Homo sapiens: one gene and its partner. The protein of the gene in region 2 interacts with the protein of the main gene of each other region in a biochemical or structural test. Each region holds a gene or a part of one and is shown on either strand. Other genes may lie near its edges.

What was found.
Region 1: the proteins of EDN3 (region 2) and EDNRB form a complex in vitro, tested with the Homo sapiens proteins (one study listed by BioGRID).

The regions. Positions count from the first base shown.
Region 1 is NC_000013.11:77,894,716-77,901,841, forward strand, and holds the end of EDNRB (endothelin receptor type B isoform 1 precursor), read right to left. Parts: intron 6,493-7,126; coding exon 6,343-6,492; intron 5,940-6,342; coding exon 5,806-5,939; intron 5,253-5,805; coding exon 5,144-5,252; intron 3,620-5,143; coding exon 3,485-3,619; 3' UTR 1,844-3,484; coding exon of another isoform or gene 1,727-1,843; 3' UTR 772-1,726; downstream 1-771. UniProt on the Homo sapiens protein: Non-specific receptor for endothelin 1, 2, and 3. Mediates its action by association with G proteins that activate a phosphatidylinositol-calcium second messenger system.
Region 2 is NC_000020.11:59,317,529-59,324,809, reverse strand, and holds part of EDN3 (endothelin-3 isoform 1 preproprotein), read right to left. Parts: intron 3,794-7,281; coding exon 3,617-3,793; intron 2,453-3,616; coding exon of another isoform or gene 2,439-2,452; coding exon 2,393-2,438; coding exon of another isoform or gene 2,354-2,392; exon of another isoform or gene 2,328-2,353; intron 1,145-2,327; exon of another isoform or gene 1,087-1,144; intron 484-1,086; coding exon of another isoform or gene 480-483; coding exon 351-479; 3' UTR 1-350. UniProt on the Homo sapiens protein: Endothelins are endothelium-derived vasoconstrictor peptides.

The DNA of each region.
Region 1 (7,126 bases), on a different chromosome or scaffold from region 2:
TTTGAGCTGCACATCTCTTGGTTTTCTTCGGCTTATGTAAATTATATTTTTTCTGCATACTTTTACTATAATAAATTGTGATGGCATTATTATTATTATTGCTTAACAACTAACTGTTCAAGAAAACAAAGGCTCTTTTTGGCAACTGCTCTACGAGAGTATTTCCTATGTTATCCTTTTCTGTACTTCTCATATGGCCCTTGGGATTCAGAACACTTGTATTTTGAAGTGCCAGCTAAAATTAGGCAGCTGAAATCCAGGAAAGGTCAGGGGTAAATGATAGCAACCTCTGGAATACTCGGCTGGGTTTGACCTTACTGTCTGGGAAAAAAGCAATTGCTAATTCTGGATTATTTTTGTTGGGTGAAGAAAGGGATTACATGCTGAGAGACACAGACAGGTGAACTTCTGCAGCAATCAGTATGCAGTTATTTAGTGCTCATTTCATTTTGCCTCATATTAAAGTTTATCATCACTGTCTCTTATCAAGTAGGGACCTTGCATTTTGTGAATTTCATCTCATCTTTCACATAGAAAACACTCAAAAAAAGCTTGTGAAATGCAATGAGCAATCCCTAAACCTCATTTCAAACTTTCACCTTTGCTAAGGTACAATAATGATGAAACAATGAAGTGCTCCAAAGGCAGGGAACCAAAGAAAGGAAGACCAAAGAGGCCATTGGAAACTATTACCCGGAAAATCAACCTTGGGAAGTTGCATGTCTGTATATCTGTTTCTTCACAACAATGAAACACACAGTCCAGCCCAGAGACCAGAAATGTGGCATTTTAATTGAATAACTTCATACTTGCTTGATAATTGTATATTTAACATAAATAATGTCCACTTGTCACATTTATATTTCTTTTAAACAATCAATTAGTATTTAATGAATTAGTGTCTGTACAGTGAAAAATAAGGTAGTTGTTAAAAAAACTTAAATTTTTATTGGTTTTGCTTACATAATAAAAAATCAGTAACTATAGCCACTTTAGGCAACCAAAAAATCCTCCCAGATATATAATTTTTTACATTGTTATATTACACTTTTATAAAGTTAGCTACAGCATACCCATGTTTTGCTATAAACTGTATTCCTTTGGCCATATGTAAGCTATCAATACTAAAAGGTGTTTGAACATACATCCACATTAGCAGTGGATAATAAGGGAGAAAATAGGTTAAAATCTTTTATAAATCTTTTGAGCTGTAACATCCATGTTAACAATAATTTTGTCTGTTGCTATATTAAAGTCCTTAATACTAGGAAACATGTTTTGAAGTTGAACGATAGCACCTTTTTCTATCTTGGTTTTGAGTATGTAAAGAAATTATAATTGTTTCTTACTTATCAGTATGTTAAAGTTTTGAATCAAACATTTTTTTAAAAAGCCACTGAATGCAATTTTATTATAAATAATGCAAGTATGCTTTTTGTGTGTAGTTTCAAAATTTGGCAAGATAATTAGAGAACATGATACTGACATGGAGAAGGAAAAGGTATCAGGATGTAAAAATTCAGTACATGGTAATAAAAATAATCTAAAATTTAAATAGAAATTAAATATATTAATAAACTGTGAAAATATTAGTGATTCAAAATTAATTTAAAATTGAGAGTCTAAAATGACTTCTATGATAACAGGCCTCTGAAAAAGTGATTGGGATGAAATTAAAGAACAAGTTTGTGGGTGATTTATAAATAGAATCCATATGGTGTGTGAATTAATTATTATTGCTCTTTCTTTCTGGCCACATTGTTGGGTTTTGGTTTACTGTACCATCACATTCAATATTGACAGAAAACAACATTACTAGCTTATTTCCAACATGTGGCCCAGCCTATTAAAAGAAAAACAAAGTAAAAATTTGGGCATATTTTAAGACCGAGTTAAAGCTCTTGGGCCCAATTTATTTCGAAAGTCACTCTGAGAACATTGCACTGTGTTTTGCTGGAACAAAATCAGGACCTTTTGCATTGATGTGACGAGGCAATGACGAACGTTAGGCTAAGAATGGGAATCTGTCCCCATGGGTTTCCTCCAACCCCACCTCATTTCCTCTCTCTTCCGTTTTCTCTTGTACATACTTTCACACACATCTCATCCCAAGCTATCCTAAGGCACTTTGCTTAGAAGATATAAAAATTAGGCAGGAACGCACAAAGCTAAGAGGTTCTTACGGTCTCAAAAAGCAGTTTTGCCTCTAGATGAAAGAAAAGCACCATGTCAAGCAAACTTTTCTATTGGCTATTTACAAAAATAATACAAAAATTAGTAATAAGCTTTACAGGTAGCTGTTAAATGTACTAATCTGTATGATTTTGAAAAATAGTATTTTAACTATAGCATTATACATATGCTAGAAACCATTTTAACCACAGCATGGGTGAGAGAGGGTGCTACCTGCCCCTTTGTCATGTGGACACTGCACCAGGCAGTTCACAGTCTTTATTATGAGGTCACTGGCATCTCTCCATCGTAAAGCTATGAGCACAGGGCCTGCCCTCATTTAATCATCTACATGCAGTGTATGTAGGTAAGTATTTACAGATGACAAAACCAAACAGAGTTTAAGCTACGATAGTGAAAGAAGAAGATTTTAATAATCCTGAAAAAATTGTAGATAGTATTGTCTTCACAGGGTATGTGAATGACAGATTCAAAAAAGTCTTTTGGGATAGCCTTTCAAACATTCTATTTCTCTTTGTGAGGTTTGATCTTAACTGAATGTAAAGGATGTAATAATTTTCTTTTTAAAAGTATTATATTTTAAATTCAGCTGGCACATGTGCCAGTCTGTTACATGCTGCTTGTTTGTGACATGTTGGTTACATATTGCAGAATGCTGAGGTTTGGGCTTCTAGTGAAAGTGTAATGATTTTCAAAAACAGCCTTGCTCTTTCTGTTACTCCCTCCTGATCATTTAAATGTTTCCAGTGTCCGAAAAATGCAACAACTAAACTGCTCTCTCATTTGCATCTAATTACAATCTGATAATAGTGTGATAATATTAATTGAAAAGTTGTTTTAAAGGATTTTAAAATTTTAAATTGAGTAATTTAAGCTTCATTTAAAAGTTCTGTTTTACAGTGACTTATTCTTCCTTTATATCAGAGTCCCATTGATTTAAAAATAAATCTCTTTTTAGAAAGAATAGAAATTCTGAGTGAGCTCATTTTTAAGCCTAAGTGTTGTGTGAATATCCTGGAAGTTGTTAAGAGCTATGTTGAAGTGCTAACTGTAAAAAATTAAGTGCTTTCACGACGAGGCTTTCTTAATTCCCACTGATTTTCTTTCCATGCCGTAAACAGCTCATAAAATGTCATATGTAGCTGTGAGTGTTAAAATAATTACACTTAATATTTTAATAGTGTGCTGTGCAAATACATAGTTTTTTGTTTTGTTTTGGCAAATGTTTCATTTTGTTTTAATGACTTCGGTCCAATATAAAGAAAATGAAATACAGTGAATAGTTCTTCTTTCAAGATGAGCTGTATTTATTACTGGAACGGAAGTTGTCATATCCGTGATCATTAGCTTTGAACTTTAAGCACGACTGCTTTTCCTCCAAGGACTGTTTTTCTTCAAATGACTGGCACCAGCAGCATAAGCATGACTGTACAAAACAAAGTAACTCATTATATGTTAACATCAGTCACCTTTCCCAACTCTTCCTCCTCTCCAGGGTTCTGACTTTCTTTGTATGATTAGGAGTTCTTGGGCCCTTTCTTTCAGTGCTCTTTTATTTTCCCTCTTAAAAGAATATAATCACAGTAGTAGCATATGATAATTTTTTAACTAAAAAAATGCAGAGAAGAAAAAAACCTACATAGTTAAAATTTCTCAACAAGAGAAAGCCACTTTTAATTGATATTTACTCTTGGTTATTTGATAATATTTGATAAACATATAATTCAAGACTTTTCCCCATGAAAACAGAAATATTTGCACATACATGAAATAAATAAATTATACACATGTATATGTGCATGTGCTGGAGAATGTGAGTATAATTATTTTACTGAGACTGTACTGTATGTATACTCCATAACCTTGTAGATACTTTCACAAACACCTCATCCCAAGTTATTCTAAGCCACTTTGCTGAGAAGATTTAACCTGCTTTTTCTCACTTGACAGTGACATAAATATCTTCTCATGTCAATGAATTTAATACTGCTTTCCTATTTTTTCAGCCATGTATTCTCATATCTCTTTTCAATATTGGTAAACAATAAGGTTATATAGTACAAAAGCATCTCAGTTTTCTTCAATTTTTTTCTTGAAGTTTTTTTAAATATAAAAATTTTTTCATTCTGCTTGTCTTCTGTTCATTCTATTTGTAAAAGAAAATGAGAAGTCCACTGTTTTATGTCTTATAAAATGAGGGTGTTGATCCTGATGGAAGTTCTCTTCCAACTCTAAAATTTGAGTTATGAGTGGGCGAAGAATGTTATAGGCTGCCTTAGTGTTTACGCGGGAGCTACGTTCTTAGCTTTCCAGTAGTGAAATACCATGGACAAATGGATGATTTTCACATTAGGGGAGGGGATATTTTATTTCATGTTAGATTGTTGAAGGAGTGAATGAATAGAAGGATGATAAAATGCAAGCAGCTGAAGAAGGAATTATATGTATTTCACATTGAACAGCACATCACTGTTATACAAAAAAGGAAGAAAGAGGTAAAACCTAAACTATTTTTTTTTTGTTTACCTTGCTATTCTCACAGTCCATGTGAAAAAGGAACTAATTTAGTTATAATAATAATTGCAGCTGCGAAGTTCAGAATCTACCAAAAACAGGGAACAGGGCCTTTAATTCATGTTTAGCCCTTATTTTATTATGTGATGCCTATCAGACATCAATGCATGTAATTTTTATTACTTTTTGGTCAACAATTCCATGAGTGTAACTGATTGGCTGAGGCAGTAGGGAGTGGCTGACTAGGATTTATAGGAAAAAACAATTATAGTGATTTACAAGCAAAAGTTGTATTTAAAAAAATCATCCATGATGTAATAAAAGGGAAACTATAAGATAATTTACTAAATCTGTCTGGATAGATATATTAGCAGTTTTGAAAGCTTATATTTGAGCCATATTACAAAGAGCTTTTTATTTTGGGATAGTCTCTTACCTTAAAGCAGTTTTTGAATCTTTTGCTCACCAAATACAGAGCAATTGGGTTAATGCAGGAATTCAGTGAAGCCATGTTGATACCAATATAGTCCAATACCAACAGAAAGCTGCAACAAAATAACCCAAAATGTGTCTGAAAAATATGCTATTCTGAACATGTAGTCATTGTAGCTTCTGTGCTTTTGTAAGGAAAAAAAATGCCAATATACAATGGTTCTAAATTTATCACTCGTCTTTGCTAACAATGATTCTCTGCCTGTCTCTGTCTGTGTCCCCCTCTAACTCTAGCATTTCTACTGACTTTCCTCCATTTCCCCTTCCCAGGCCCAATTCTTCTCTTTTAAAATAAAATCTCATTTGGAAGTACTGAAGCTGGCTGAAAAGAAGAAATTTAGAAAACGCGTTGGAGAATCGGACCTGACATTTTCCGCCTTGGCACTCACTCATCATCTTGACAACTCTGACTCTCTGTACCCAGTGTTCTTCATACCCCCCCTTCCCTGTCCCTCTCAACAGGACCTCAGATAAAAATTGGGAGTCTCCATGACTTCCTAAGGGTTAGAAAAATGGTAGTCTGTCTTTCTGCCTATAAAAAAGATCGATGGAAACACTTCTGAGTGGCATTTATTTACAAAACCATTTCTAGTTTGCCTTTCTTACCTCAAAAGTTCACATCTATTGGGATCATTCTGATTATAAAGAGTGAGCTTCAGAATCCTGCTGAGGTGAAGGGGAAGCCAGCAGAGGGCAAAGACAAGGACCAGGCAAAAGACGGTTTTGGCCACTTCCCGTCTCTGAAATAAATCCATAGTTTGACCCTTAAAAGATGGCTCATTTTACTCATAGCATTCTATCTTCTAAAACGACATTTAATATTGTCTACAAAAAGTCAGTGGCATATGTAAAAACTCAGGACACTGAGCTTTATATGGAATAGTTAATGTGAAGTGGAACCGAAGTGACTAGAGATTCATCTTTAAAAAGTTCTGATTCTCCCTAGATCCTTTTAGATTATATAGAATATCTCCAAATAAATAATATAAAAATATTCTTTATCTATTTAAAACTACCAGAAACAAGAAAAAGGAAATATGCTCTGGTATATAATAATGTTAGTTTATCATCATCATCATCATAATTTTCATATTCATAATTATAAATTCAACCACGAGTTATCAAATATTTGTATTTTCTTACCTGCTTTAGGTGATCATTTAAAGCAATCTGCATGCCACTTTTCTTTCTCAACATTTCACAGGTCATTAGTGTATAAAAAAATGCAGTGATGGCCAATGGCAAGCAGAAATAGAAACTGAATAGCCACCAATCTTTTGCTGTCTTGTAAAACTATAGGGATGAGAGAATTTTTACGATTAATACTCCTCTGTAAGAAAATCTTATATAACAAATGTTAAACTTAAAAAAATTCATCAGGGAATGATTATCTTCTAAATTAGATCCAGTTTGTATATATCATACAGAATCTTTCAGGCCACACTTACTGAACAAATAAATAGTCATGTTAAATAAAACAAATTTTCCCAAAAATATTTCAGTTCTCTAAGACAATGTGTTATAAGCATGCACAAAAACTTAAGTAGTTAGGCAAAATTTGAAATATTTGGTAATTCAATGCTTTGTCTTCACATAAGAAACTTATCCTTAGAGTATTTTTTGTGTGAAATATAACACCTAAATATGTAAAGATAACTTAGTGTTTAGATGAAGTTCTCATTTTTTAGCAAGTTTGTTTAATGGGAACAACAGATACGAAAAGGTCTAGGTTAACCATTTAGCTCAGTAACATATAAATCTAACCTCGCAAAAAGACAAAATCTGCTTTTGACTTATGTCGTATCTCTTATTCTTTTTCTTCTCTGTTATCTTTTTCATATTGCTTTAGATATATCTGTGTTGGAGAGGAAATTATGTAACCTAGGCAGCACTTTTTTTTTCTTTTTACTAATAGGAAACAAGGAAA
Region 2 (7,281 bases):
AAAGAGTTAGCTTGGAGTCCACTTATTCTCCAAGAGAAGTCATGTCAAAAGCCAGTAAGTGGCTTTCCAACTTGCCAAAACTCTCCAAAACCAATTTCCTGCATGAAACCGGAGCTGCAGGCGTCATGCTCTGGGGCACATCTGGGATCATTTTACTCATTAGGAAAACTGGGGTCATTCGGATTTGGGCATTCTTGCCGTGGGGGGGGGGTATTGTTAAGTGGGGACTCTTTGGGTGGGTGTTCTGCCCCAGGCAAATTCACTTCTTGTCTATAAAGAGGTGGAAATCTGAACTGTGTGTGAGCAATGACAGAAGCCTCCCGAGACCAGGATGCTGCAGGCCTGTCCTCCTAAGGGGCTCCTTCCTGAAAGAGGCAGCGGGGGCAGGTAGATGGAGCGAGGGCGAGTCCACTGCCGGGCATGAGCTTTGGATGGTGGAGGTCTAAAGCCTGCTTGCTTTGTTGGTCCTTGACTTCAACCTGTCTTGGGGAAAGGGGGCAAAAGAAAAAAAAAGAAAGGTATGTTATGAAAGTGTAGCTCTGTAGTTCTGTGAAGCTGAAAAAGGGAACGTCTTCCCACTGCCTCTCCAGCCTGTTCCCTGATTGGAACTGTATGTACCCTCTTCCCAGTGCTTCTCAGCAATTTCCGAGCCTACCACCAGACTGGAAAAGTGTGAAAAGAATAACACCAGCAGACAAGGCTGCTAGGGGCCCTCCCGCAGCCTGGCCCCATCTTTGATTACCACAAGCTAAGGATGGTGACAGCTTCCACTCTGAGAATGTGAATCTGGGAATTACTAACTTGAATCTTGCAAGAAAGCAAGAACATTGGCTTAATAAGAGACTTTTTCTTCCCAAGTAAAGCTTCTTACTAGAGCTTTACATGACTCATAGAGACCTGGAAGAACCACTTTTCCAGGCCCTGCTGGGACATCTGCACCACCAATTGCATCTTTTGAACATGTGACATAGAACAGTAATAATCACCACAACAGCAAAAGGACCGGTGTGCTTCTCCTATATAGGGCTCCCTTCTGGCCGTTCCCTGAGCACACTCTAGGGCGTTTGCACTCACCGGTTCCCCTACCTGAAATCCCTTTCCCTCACTCATCCCTATGGCTCCTCCCAGCCTTCCTTCAGGTCACCTGGTGAGAAAGATGAGGCCACGTCAACCCCATCTCAAACTGCAACCACCCCACGCTTCCTACCCTTGCCGTGTCTTTCTGTTATTCTTTGCAATCTCACTTTAAATTGTACATGTTTGCTGTCTGCATCCCCACTAGTTAAGCTCTATAAAAGAGATCCTATGCCTTGTTCCTGCTATGTCCCCAGCATCGAGAATGGTGCCCAGCCCGTAGCAGGTGCCCAACAAGTCTTTGCTGAACGAATGCATAAGCGAATGAATAAATGATGCAATGGATGGATGGGTTTAATTACATCCCGCCCTCGCTGAGAGGAGCTTTGGTTTGGGGTGAGGAAGAGAAAAAGAGGAAAAAGAATGAAGAGGCAAAGTGGGACCATCTGGGTCTGACTCATGCTCTCCCGGGCTCTGTCTCTTCCGCCTCGGCCCTCCTCCTCCCGCTCCATTTTTATTATGGTTGCTGACAGATCCCTCTCTGGACTAGACTAGAAGCGATCTGCCACCAATTTGGAAAGCTCCTGTATACTGAGCATGGTTTCATCTTCCCTCGATCAGTCTCTGTAGAAACCCAAGCCACCTCCAGGCTATTATTATGAACATAAATTACCATCCCATTGCAGATGAGCTGCGGAGTCATTAATAATGACTTCTGATTGATAGAATGACAAATAAACCCAGTTTGACTGCAGGAAACCCTCAGGATCTCTCATACAAAAAAGACAAGTGGGTTAAAAAAAATAATACAATGAACTGGAGAACCAAGGGACCCTGCTGTCAAGCTGCTGTAATTCACCTCTGCCCAGAATCAGCTGCTGAAAAGAATAAATGATTTTTTTGACGAGAAAGACCACATGTTGCTAAGGAAGCAGAGGCGAAGTGTGGGTCTGGGCAGAGCAGCCTACAGGGCCTCTGAGAGCGGTGGTTGACTAGCTTTGTCCAGGCCAGGTGAAATCCAGGCAGGACATCACTGCCCAGAGCTACAAGGGATGCAAGGGCTGGCTCCCAGGACACAGAGCAGGGTGGCCAGGGACCGACAAGTGACAGCAGCTGTCCACAGCTTCAGCCCGCTCTGCCCCCAGAAACGGTCCACCAAAGGCACCATTGCTTGTGGGTGCAGCATCCCATGAGATCTGGGGTTCCCACTGGACCAGACCAGATGCCATCCCCTCAAAACACCCTCCACCCACCCCCGAAGGAATGACACGTCACATCTTCACCTCCTTTGACACAGGCCTCTGTTGGCACCTCTCACCTTCCCTTCCTCTTCTTTGTCTGTTTTTTCTGCCGTCCTTGAATTACTGTGGGGAGAGAGCTGGTTTTAATCAATCAACCTGCCTTTCCCTGTGGCTGGTTTTTCGGTGTCAAATTATGACTTCCTCTTCCCCACCAATGAGCACATTAGTGCGTTCCCCAAGGACTGCGTCTCAGGCACAGTTTCTGAAGGCTGAGCACTCGGTGGGTGGATTTCTACCAAAGTACAGAATATACTCACCACTCACTTATTCATCGGATGTTTAAAAGCCCAGAAGGGGGGAAAAACCATGCAGTTCACACTGGGTTTCACAGACGGCAGATCCTGGGGTCCTGAGCGCTACCGTCTGCCTTGTTGGGGTGTTGGGAGCTCACCCCTGCCTATGTGTCTTTTGTGTGCATCAGGGCAGCTCACCTACGCCTGCTCCAGGAAGGGTTTTGAAAGGGCCAATCTGCCTCACTGGGTTCATGAATCTTGGCCCGAAGTTAAGAAAAAGATGGAGTAAGGAGCATTAACAGGAATACCTGTTATGTGAATACCAGCTCAAAGCCCCTGGGTCAAACATGGAGTCTGCCTGTTGGTTCCATTCAACGTGATTTGCAAGCTTCCCTAAGGCAGCCAGGACAGACCACAGGGTCTCAAACTTGGGGGCCTCCAGGGGCTACAAAGTAAGATAAATTGGTAACAGGTAAATGGATATTGCACATCCTACTCAAACGTGAGATGCCCCCACTCAGTTCCAGCTGAGGGTGGCCAAAGAGAAGGGGGGCTCTGAGACCAGATGGTCCTACGTGCTGGGTTCCCCCCCCTCCCAATAAGCCTTTTGCACTCTTATCATGGGCTATTTTCGAGAAGGCTAAAAATACGCATTTGGCAGGGGTTAATTCTTCAATCTTTTAAGTGTTGGCAACTTATTCAGATTTTCACAAAGTGCTGTGCAGGCCAGAAAAACATATGTCTGGAAACCAGATGTAGCCACGGCCACTGTGAAGCTTCTGTTCCAAAAGGCAGCAAGGGGGTGGGGACGCTGCATCTCCTGCCCTCCTGATGCTGAGGACCTGGGTCTTTTCTGGGCTCAGCACCTCCTTTCTCTGGCCCACAGGACGACAGTAGGTCAGGATGTGACTGAACTATCCTACACCCTCCTTTGAGAAGCCCCTGGCCTGGCCTTGCCGAGGGTTGATGCATATCTGCAAATGAGTGAAACTGGAGGAGGTGTCATACCTGCTGACGTCCAGAGTTTGGGTGCAAAAGTGCAGGCAGGCCTTGTCATATCTCCCCACACAAGCGCAGCGCAAGTGTGGCCGATGTGAGAGCTGCAGATTCCCTGGAAGTGGCCCCGCAGACCTCTTGCCCCGGAAGCTTCCTCTGTAGTTGGACAGTCCATAGGGCACCGTCTGTCTGCAAAGCACAGGGTAATGTTAGGTGAGCACACCCAGGCCTCCCTGCTCAGGGGCCCCCAAGGGTGTGGAGCGAGAACCACCGCCTGGCTGAAAAGGTCTCAGAAACTGGTGTTCACAACCCTCCCCACTACAGCTCTGGGTCTTAGGAAGGTTCTGGAGTGAACTGTGCACCCCCTGCCCTCCACAACCCCCAGGAAGAGAGTTGGGGCTGAGGGCATGGAAGGACATGGAGGGTCTGGGTAGCTGGGCAGCAGCCAGCACTCTTGGAGCCCAGCAGGCGTCTGGGCATGTGTGCCTGCACTTGTGAGCCCCTTAGCCTCACCCAAGGCACCAGCTGCAGGTGTGGCCTGAACGCCCTGGGGCTCTGCGATCTGTGAACATGGGTGGGCTTTCATTCTCTTCAAGACCAAACCACGGCCGGCCTAGCTCCTCCGGGCCGGGTTCTGCTCCTCGGCTCTGGAAGTACCATCTGGGCCTCCTCCTCATTCCATGGAAAGCCGAGAAAGAATTAAAGACAACCATAGCACCTGTTCCAGAGGCTTTTCTTCCTGTGCCAAGGGCATGTGGGGCAACCTACGTGCTGGTCTGGGTCTTCGCCCTGATCAGATCACCTGCCTACCCCGCAGCCTGAGGCCAGACCTGAGGTTTCTGACTGAATTTCTTCCATGTGCACAGCAGTTTGTGCTAATGAGAAGATGGGAAATGCAATTACAGTCATTAGAGATGCATCCCGGCCTTTGAAAGTTGCTTCCTCAAAGAGACAAACATCAGAAGGAACACTCCGTGACCTCTGAGAGGCGGGTGAGGGCCTGGCCATGCAGCTGAAAGTGGAACCAGCCTCAGAAGAGCCGCGTGATGAAGAAGGCTTGAAACCATTGACCAATTTCGTTTATGGTTGGCGTTGGCAGGAGGAGTGTGATGGTGTGGTTCAGAGCAAAACCCGTGGAAGCTGGTTCTAGTGAGTGTGCACATCCAAATCATCACTTGCCAGAGAAAAAGGGGGTGCCTGCCAGGCAGTTCAGCGGGAAGAAGTTGAAAGCAGATCCTTAACTTACTAGCTTGATTTGAGGAACAAATTACTAATAGCTAGAAGAAACATGTGGCCAAAGCCACTTTTCCAATAAACATTGGTTTTCTTGCTAGTCCCCAGAGATGAACCACCTTGGTTTCCATGAACCCCACTGAGTAGTACCAATTATCCACTTCAAAGGGAGTCCTGACATCCCCTCTGCATTTTCTTTTTTCTTTTCTTTTCTTTTTTTCTTTTTTTTCTTTTTTTTTTTTTTTTGAGACAGAGTCTCGCTCTTGTCGCCCAGGCTGGAGTGCAATGGCACGATCTCGGCTCACTGCAACCTCTGCCTCCCCGATTCAAGCAATTCTCCTGCCTTAGCCTCCCAAGTAGCTGGGACTACAGGCATGTGCCACCACGCCCGGCTAATTATTATTATTGTTATTATTTGTATTTTTAGTAGAGACAGGGTTTCACTGTGTTAGCCAGGATGGTCTCCATCTCTTGACCTTGTGATCCGCCTGCCTCGGCCTCCCAAAGTGCTGGATTACAGGTGTGAGCCACCATGCCCAGCCCCTCGCTGCATTTTCAAAATAAAATCAAATTGAATTTCTTTTCATTTGAAACACACACCATAAAGCCTTTTTGCGACAGTGAGGGCAAATTGGGCCAGGAAGCCCCATAGTGACCTAAGGCTTGGAGGGAGTCCCCCGCCCCCGCCTCCCTGCTGGGTTGAACACAAGAGCCTAAAACTGACCCCACCCTGTTCGTTGACTCTTGTTCTCCCCACTAACTCCCTCCCACCCAAGTTCCTCAGAAACAGAGGTGGTGGGATCCCTCCAGGCAGAGACAGGCCCCGCTGATGAGCCATCTGTGCTCAGGAAACGGAGACAGAGGGCAGGATCCAGCCCTGTATTGAGCTGAACCCTCCTTCAAGCCCGTTTTTTCTCAGGAATGGGAAATGGGGGTAGGGAGTGCAGCAAGACAATGTAGACATTGTTTTGAGGCAGAGTTTGGCAAAGGTGTATTTTTCCAGTAACAGGGCCACATTAAATCTCTGAGTGTTGACATTAAATCAATCCCCCCATTTCTTGGAGAAAATTACACACAAGGAATAACAACGCTCCCATTTCTCCATCAATAGTGAGACCTGCAATTTTGAAACTGCTGTCAGCTGATTATGCATTTGCACATGTAGAGCCCCTCAACTTGAGCCAAAACACTCCAAAGTGTTTTAAGTAAGGAAACAAGGCAACATGGTATTTGTTAATGAAGACAGGCTTAGCACTTCCCCGGCCGCCAAGCGCGGTAAAGTGCTGGTGTGCAAACAGGCTCTGGCAGTTTAGAGAGGCACGGCCCCCTCCCCTGCCCTACAGCCTTGAGGCACAGAAACCCCTCCACCAAGGCCTGGGCCTTCCGGGTGTGCAGTCTGCTGACCGACCCGTGCGGAGGTGAGGGAAGCTGACGGCCCAGCAGAGCCTGCCGCTGACATTGTAGAGTCTGGAATGAGAGTTCGCGATGGAGGCCCACCTCCCACAGGGCTAATCATTTAAAGGTTTCAATCGATCTGATAAGCCCTGAAACGAAAAAGTGTTATCTCCTGTATCTGGACAAATGTGGCTTCCAAATGCTGCCTTGCAGGTCCAGCTTTTAATTTAGAATCCTGGGCTCCTGGCCACTCCGTATCGACATGTGGTGGAGGCCCAGTACCTTCTCTGCTATCCTGCGCCATCCCACACCAGCGCTGGCTTCAAGCACTCCCCGTGCATGCCCCAGGCTGCTTCCTCCAAGCTCCTTCCACCCTACATCCTGTAAGCAGCTGTCACCCTGCAGGCCTGGAGATATGTACCTGGAGCCCTGCTCATCCCCAAGTGTCAGGCCCTGGAAGTGGTCTTGGGGATGCGTGAGTAGGGAATTCCAGCCCCTGAATACCTGGAACATGGTCTTGAAGAGGGAGCATATGGCTTTGAGTCCCAGACTCTTACAGTGGGGTGGGAGGCATGGCCAGAGTGGCGTCAGAGGCAGTCCTCTAACCCACAGGGCCCAGAGTTGCAGTGTTTCTTACCCAAGTCTAAAGGCAGATTACTGGATCCTCAAAAGAGAGGGCAGGTCTTTTACTTCTTTTTTACCCACCATGGGCCTCACACAAGGCCAGGCGAACAGATTATTGATTGAGCAACTGGTAATTCATGGTGAGATCATTCTAGTCTGGCGAGACAGGATTCTTTTCACCCTAAAGAGTTCAATAACCACAAAAATCACTGAAAGAATCTCCAACATTCTTCAGCATCCACTATATACGTGGTATCAATGTAAGTGTCACAGGGACACAGAAAGGCACATCCCTATGTGTCCATGCCTTCAGGAGTTATATGCTGTTGGACTACGAAAACAGGTAAAGGAAAAAAGGCCAGTAGGTACAGGTATGTGCAAGGTACACACAGAGACACATGACCTGGTAATACTGCTCTTATGTT